2 linked regions of the Homo sapiens genome follow. The protein of the gene in region 1 interacts with the protein of each later gene in a pairwise test. Each region holds a gene or a part of one and is shown on either strand. Other genes may lie near its edges.

Region 1 (3,750 bases):
CTGGGATTACAGGCATGAGATATCGCGCCAGGCCACATTTCCACACTTAAAAAATAAAAATAATCCCTTTTCTGCCCCCAGATCCCCAAAATATACTCACTACCCCTGCCACCTCATTCTAAATGACCAACGGCATACCAACGCATGATACAGACTAAATTCTAACTCTCTCCTTCCCATGTGCTGGAATCTCAGCACAGCCTCAGGGAAGAGGAGGAGGTGTGACTGTGCACAGCTGATGTGTCAAGACGTTACATCAATGTCTTCTTTATTCTTGACACCAACCCTGCAATGCTGATGACACTGAGTGCAGAGGCATCAAAACTGGACAACTAGCCCAGGTCCACTGGGGGCTGGTGTATTCAGTTGACCCTGAACCATAATGCCTTCAGTGGCCAGCGTGAAACTTCTTCAGGAGTGCCAACCAACCCCAAAATGTCCAGGCCCACGGGTATCTGCACTTCAGCATGCAGTGTCAACAGATGTTTACCCAGCTCAGCACTGCACAGGAGTAGGAGATTTGGAAACATGGTTTCTTCCTATAGCACTAACCTTGATGGGAGAGAAAATTCACCTATTTAGAATGTCAGAGAGGTAAGAACATCTGACATGGCTCCCTCATTTCATTCATTTCATTGCCAAAAAAAAAAAGGCCAAGAGAGGAAAGGAAGAAAAAAAAATGTCCTATCTTCCGTGCCTCAAGCACCATTCATATGCTCCCTTCATTTCATCTTCACAACAGTCATGTTATAAAGGCATTCTTAGGTCCAATTTACACACACACACTTTTTTAAGTGACTCAGAGCTTTAATATACTGTCCAAGTTCTGACACATTAAGTGGCAAGGTACCAGCATCTGAACCCAGACTTGTCCACCTCCCAAGCCCAAGCCCTTTGTATTCTAAGCCCAGCTACTGCTGAAAACTCTAGTAGTAACATAGAATAGCACATAATTAAGGGGTAATGCTGTGATCTAGACCAGCGATTCCCAAATTAGTCTGATTCATTAGAATCATCTCAGTCGCTTTATAAAAATACAGTTTCCCCCACACTCCCACCCCCATTCAGGTTTCTGATTGTGTAAGTCTGAGAGGAGGCCTGAAATCTGTATTTTCACATACTTTCAATGATTCTGATCATCAGTATGCCTTGCTATTTACAGAAGGATTAAAAACAACAGGGCTGGATCAGCCATGAAAAGGTATTTGGAGCTTGCATTTAATCAATAGCATTTAAAAGGAGAAACACTGAAAAAGTAGCAATGTCCAGGGAGTGTTCATGATAGTGATATCAATGGGCCAGGGCTGGGAGATGTGGTGGAAAGTGATCAAGGGGGTAACCAGAAAGGAAGGCTATTATGGGGCCGCTTATAAATCCAGCAGAGGCATACAGACTATATGCCATGATAACAAGGACACGGAGGTGTCTAGACCATGGGCAACATGATCAAAGTGGTGGAGGACAAACCAAACTGCATGCAAGTGTCTGGGCCAGGAATGGCAACTACAAGGCTACTGACATAGAAGCACAAGCTGGCATGCCCCCAAGGAAGAAAAAAAGAGGGAAAGCTCTTCATTTGAAATTTTCTGTCCCATCAAGATTAGTGCTGCAGGAAGAGACCAATGGCCAGGCATAGTGGCTCACGTCTATAATCCCAGCACTTTGGGTGGCCGAGGCGGTGGATCAGCTGAGGTCAGGAGTTGGAGACCAGCCTGGCCAACACGTTGAAACCCCATCCCTACTAAAAATACAAAATTTAGCCAGGTGCAGTGGCATGTGCCTGTAGTCCCAGCTACTCGGGAGGCTGAGGCAGGAGAATCGCTTGAACCTGGGAGGTGGTGGTTGCAGTGAGGTGGCTGCAGTGAGGTGGTGGTTGCAGAGTGCCATTGTACTCCAGCCTGGGTGACAGAGTGAGACTCCATCTCAAGAGGAAAAAAAAAAAAGATTAGCGCTGCAGGAAGGGACCACATTTCCAAACCCCGACTTCTTTGCAGTGCTGAGCTCAGGTCAGGAGCTGGGTAAACACCTGTTGGTGCTGCATCTTTAAGTGCAGGTTCCCATGGGCCAGGGCATTCTGGGGCCGGTTGGCACTCCTGAGGAAGTTCCACGCTGGCCACTGAAGGCATGAAAAAATGAACGGAAAGATCACTAGAATGCAAGCTCCAAGAAGGCAGGGGGATATCTGCCTGGTTTGCTCACTGCTTTACCTCAAGCACCTAGTAGGTATGAAATAAATATCTGCAGAATGAATGCACAGCTGGACTTAGAGGCAGACTGGACGTGGAAACCAACAAAGATGAATGAGTCCAGGGCTTCTTCAAGATTTAAATCCAAATGATTAGAATGAAAATGATAGTACTGTCACAGTTGACTAAAAAAGTTAAATAAGAGTAGATTGGTTTTAGCAAAGATTCTTCTTCATTACTTCTGGCTTTTCTCTAAGACTTTATTTTGGCCTCTAGTCCACGAAAAGAATTCAGTGGTTTGGAGATTCTGCAATGCACCCTTCTGCCTTGGGAAGAAGAAAAGGATGGGCAAAATCTTTTAGTTTGATTTTTGGCAATGGAAGAAGGACAATCTAGTGAGAATCTAAACCCAGATGGCATTCCTCACAGGACAACTGGATCCCCACCAGCAGGTATGCCAACAGCACAGTGGCTTGACTGGACTTGCTATAAACCTTAATGACAGGGCTGGTGGGGCTCTGTGTGACTGGGTCAGCTTCAGGGGCCTTGCCAACCTAAGGAGACTCCAAGCCACCTCTAGCTGGCCAGTCAGGTCTCTGGGGGCTTTTGGAGACTTGAAAACTAGTTCCACCCAGGGAACAAACCAGTTCACCTTTTGAAATCCTTTCCAAACTAATGATTATCCAAGGCGCCATTTAAGTGATCATATTACACAGGGTAGGCTACCCCTCGAAGGGTGGTTACCATCAAAACTAGACATATCAGGTCCTAAAAGCAGAAGCTGAAGGGCATGCTCAAATTGCTTCTCAGACATCCATTTTCTGCAAGCCTGATCTTTCAAGATCTTTCCTTCTTAAATGACATCCTCCTTCTGCTAATACCCAACTAAGAGAGAAAGAGCCCTTGTTTTTATAAAATTCCCTAGCAAAAGCAATTTGTTTCACTCATAAAACAGCCAAACTATATTTTCTAAAGAACTGCAAAGTTACATGATTTCGATTTTAGTTACCCTTCTAATGCAAACTTTCCAGAGCCTGCCTTTCATAATACACCGAGAGATAATGCATGGGCCCAAATGACTTGACAGTTTCTTTTAATTTACAGACATCTAAGAATGTTTATAAAATTCCTCTAGTTCAAAACACTTCCTTTTCTTAAACATATTTCCAGTTCAAATTATGTGTTTATAGCAGTCTGCAATATATTATTTCTAAAGATAAACAGTCATGTACAAAATGGACAGAAAACCAGCAGCATATCACTACTGCCACACTCAGTCAGATTTTCCCCTTGCCTGGTGCTCCGCAGCCAAAGTCCTAACCTGCCAGTGGAAAGTATGAATGGATCACTAGGAACAGGCTTTCCCAGCTGCCTCCAGGATCCATAAAGGAACAGCTACCAGTTCCTTTTCATAGGCAGTTTTGAGCCTTAGTTCCTGAGAACCTCTTTTTTACCCCCAGAGCTAAGTATAAAACTTAAGAATTCACTAACTGTAGGCAGTTTTCCTTTCTTCCTTTAAAGGGAGACTTTAAACCCAAATCACTACTTCTAAATCCCAGGAAAC
Region 2 (3,750 bases), on another chromosome or scaffold:
TGGCTAATTTTTGTATTTTTAGTAGAGACGGGGGTTTCACCATGTTGGTCAGGCTGGTCTTGAACTCCTGACCTCAGGTGATCTGCCCCCCACCCCCTGCTCGGCCTCCCGAAGTGCTGGGATTACAGGCATGAGCCACTGTGCCTGGCCTATTCCTCACATTTTTCTCTTAGAAAGTTAAAGTCTCTGACCTTGAGATACAAAAATGTAAGGGTTTTCAGTGTTTAACATAAGGTACTTATATATATTATATATAGTATATATATAAAATAAATTAATATATTAATTTATTATATAAGTGATAAATGTTTAATTCAAATTAGAGTTCACCTTACGGTTGAAAATGTCTTTTAGTCAGAAAACTGAGGCATGGGAAGGTTAAGTGACATAGATCTAATAAGAGCTTCAGTATGAAAAGTAGTGAATGCTTGACCATCAGGGAGATACTTTTCCTAAGTATCCCATAAAATTTGTTCTAATCCATTAAATATATTTAGAAGACTTTATTTTATTTTTTTTATTTTTGAGACGGAGTTTCATGATTCTTGCCTAGGCTGGAGTGCAATGATGCGACCTTGGCTTACTGCAACCTCTGCCTCCTGGGTTCAAGTGATTCTCCTGCCTCAGCCTCCCAAGTGGCTGGGATTACAGGCGCCTGCCACCACTCCTGGATAACATTTGTTATTTTTAGTAGAGTGCTGAGATTACAGGCGTGAGCCATCGCTTACATTTTTATTGAGGGGAGAAAAAGCCCTGCATGTACTGAGAGATAGTTGTATAAGAATCTTAAGAGTTGGCCGGGCGCGGCGGCTCACGCCTGTGATCCCAGCACTTTGGGAGGCCGAGGCGGGCCGATCATGAGGTCAGGAGATCGAGACCATCCTGGCTAACACAGTGAAACCCCATCTCTACTAAAAATACAAAAATTAGCTGGGTGTGGTGGTGGGTGCCTGTAGTCCCAGCTACTTGGGAGGCTGAGGCAGGAGAATGGCCTGAACCTGGGAGGTGGAGCTTGCGGTGAGCCGAGATTGCGCCACTGCACTCCAGCCTGGGTGACAGAGCGAGACTCCATCTCAGAAAAAAAAAAAAAAAAAAAGAATCTTAATAGTTTCAACTGTTTATAAAACTTTTGAATTTTGGATTATATTATCTGTACTTTGCTTTACTGGGCCCAGGGGGAGTTAAGCTTTCCTTCTTATTACAGCTAAGAGTTTGCCTGTTGGACCACTTAACGCCCCCAGGGAGCATGTGCATGTCTAAAGATGGCAACTCTGTTTATGATTGCTGTTTTGGTTGGATTTCTAATATTCGGTGTGATTAAAGCAGAAATGCATTTCTAGCCACTGCTGATTACAGACATATTGCACTCTGATGGGTATCGCTTAGCAACTTAGTGCAGTAGACTCAGTTAAAAGAAGTGGATGTGTGCCATATTGACATTTTGAGCTCACATTCTTGTGGGTAATATAAAATTCCTTAACCTGATAATATTGCAGCTAAACCTAGTATTTAGGGTCTAAGTTGAATGAGTATTACCAATTTTAGAAGTAATCACCTCCTTGGTTAGGGAAATGACAGTTGCACAGGTGGACAGCCAGAAAGCTGAATGTTATCAGTTAAATCTTACATCTCTCCTTAACCTGCCTTCGTGGTGCCAAATAGCAAGTTTCTAATTGAAACTGACAAATTGTAGGTGTGTAGCTTTTTTTTTTTTTTTTTTGAGACAGAGTTTCGCTCTTGTCTCCTAGGCTGGAGTGCAATGGGGAGATCTCAGCATACTGCAACCTCTGCCTCCTGGGTTCAAGCCATTCTCCTGCCTCAGCCTCCCAAGTAGCTGGGATTACAGGCGCCCACCACCACGCCTGCCTAATTTTTGTATTTTTAGTAGAGACGGGGGTTTCACCGTGTTGGCCAGGCTGGTCTCCAACTCCTGGCTTCAGGTGATCCACCTGCCTTGGCCTCCCAAAGTGCTGGGATTACAGGCGTGAGCCACCACGCCCGGCCATGTGTAGCTTTTAATTGTGGTTCATTAACCCAGTTTCTAAGCAAATTAGAACCTTCTGTGTATCTCCCCTAGTTCTGTATGCCCCACTGGTTCCTGTAGAGCTTTATTTCTGAAGGGAAGTATGGGAAAACTATGGATATTTGAACTAAAAAAAAAAAAAAAAGAATTAAAAAGAACTCCATCCCAAAATGATTTGTTGTAAATATGTTCATTTAAAGCAATTATATTTTCCATATCTGATCAAGCAAAAGTAGTACATAAAAGCCAAAAAACCCAATTTAAAGAATATGTTATGGAATAAACTCTGATTTTAGAGGTTGTAGTAGCATATTTGTTGTTCTCATACATTGAGTGTTCATCTGAATGTACGTTGAATATGCGGTGAGTGATTCACAGTATAAAATGATTGGCAAGTATCTTCGAAATTACAAACCACATACTGATTAGACAAATAGATTTGCAAAACTGAAGCTTTTTGGATTTAAAAAATATCTCCTAGCCTCATTCTTCAAGCCTGGTGTGTAATTTTTATAAGGCCTTATAGTAGTTGAAAATGAGTACTCTTTTATGGTGACGAATTCTTTATGGTGAGTGAGAAATAATGCTTATTCTTCCAATTTTAGTATATGTGGTGCTGAATCGAGCACAATAATGCTTATTCTTTGCTTCGGAATTTTTTAATTTATTATTATTGTTATTTTAAATTTTTATTTATTTATTTATTTTGAGATGGAGTCTCACTCTGTCGCCCAGGCTGGAGTGCAGTGGCGCGATCTCAGCTCACTGCAACGTCTGCCTCCTGGGTTCAAGCGATTCTCCTGCCTCAGCCTCCCAAGTAGCTGGGACTACAGGCGCATGCCACCACGCCCAGCTAATTTTGTATTTTTAGTAGAGACAGGGTTTCACCGTGCTAGCCAGGATGGGTCTGAATTTCTTGATGTCGTGATCCACCTGCCTTGACTTCCCAAAGTGCTGGGATTACAGGCATGAGCCACCGTGCCCGGCCCGGAATTCATCCTTTAGAAAGATTTCTTCCAGCTGTTCCTCAGTTCTCTGCACTCCCTTACACTTTCCACCTTATCTGTCTGGGAACTAATTTAGTCTTTATGTTGGCTGCTTTCTTTTCACTTTTCAGGCTAAGATTTCCTTTCTCTTGGAAATCAGACGTTTACTTGGTCCTGCAGCTCTCTCTCTGTGGACCAGTCTTTTTTGTTGTTGTTGTTGCCAGATACTCACCGCCTCTACTGTTTATCCACCCATTTCCTTTATAACTCTGAAAAGTAGCTCCTGCCTCTGCTTGATTGCTGTTTTCTTGAAAGTGATTACTTCTGGCAAAACATAGTGGTCATTGCTTAGTTGTAATGCCACTGTGATGTTCCACTCCCCCCGGAAACCAATCTCTTCCAGTTCCCAAGACACAATACTTTTCTACTGAATTGGAGTTCCTTAGCGGGGGTCTTAGTTTTGTTCTGCTATTCAGTGCCTTTGTCCCTATCCTAGCCATTAGCTTTCCTATAGATCCTTGATTTCCTCATCTGTTGAAAAAGAAATGGCTAGAAAATCTTTTAGATTCTTTCAAGTTTAAATATTCGATGATTTTAATATTCTAACAGCATGTCTCTGTGACCCAGCAGTCTATTGGGAGCTGACCCCACTTGATTTACCAAACTCTTTCCCATTATGCCTCTGCATGCACCTATGTTCCAGGCAGGTCACCTCAGTCTCTTCTGTGTGTATCATGCTTC

The links.
Region 2: the proteins of SDC2 (region 1) and NF1 interact in binary tests that used the Homo sapiens proteins (3 or more experiments, as listed by UniProt).

Annotation. Positions count from the first base shown.
Region 1 is NC_000008.11:96,496,664-96,500,413, reverse strand, and holds part of SDC2 (syndecan-2 precursor), read right to left. Parts: intron 1-3,750. UniProt on the Homo sapiens protein: Cell surface proteoglycan which regulates dendritic arbor morphogenesis.
Region 2 is NC_000017.11:31,097,857-31,101,606, forward strand, and holds part of NF1 (neurofibromin), read left to right. Parts: intron 1-3,750. UniProt on the Homo sapiens protein: Stimulates the GTPase activity of Ras. NF1 shows greater affinity for Ras GAP, but lower specific activity. May be a regulator of Ras activity.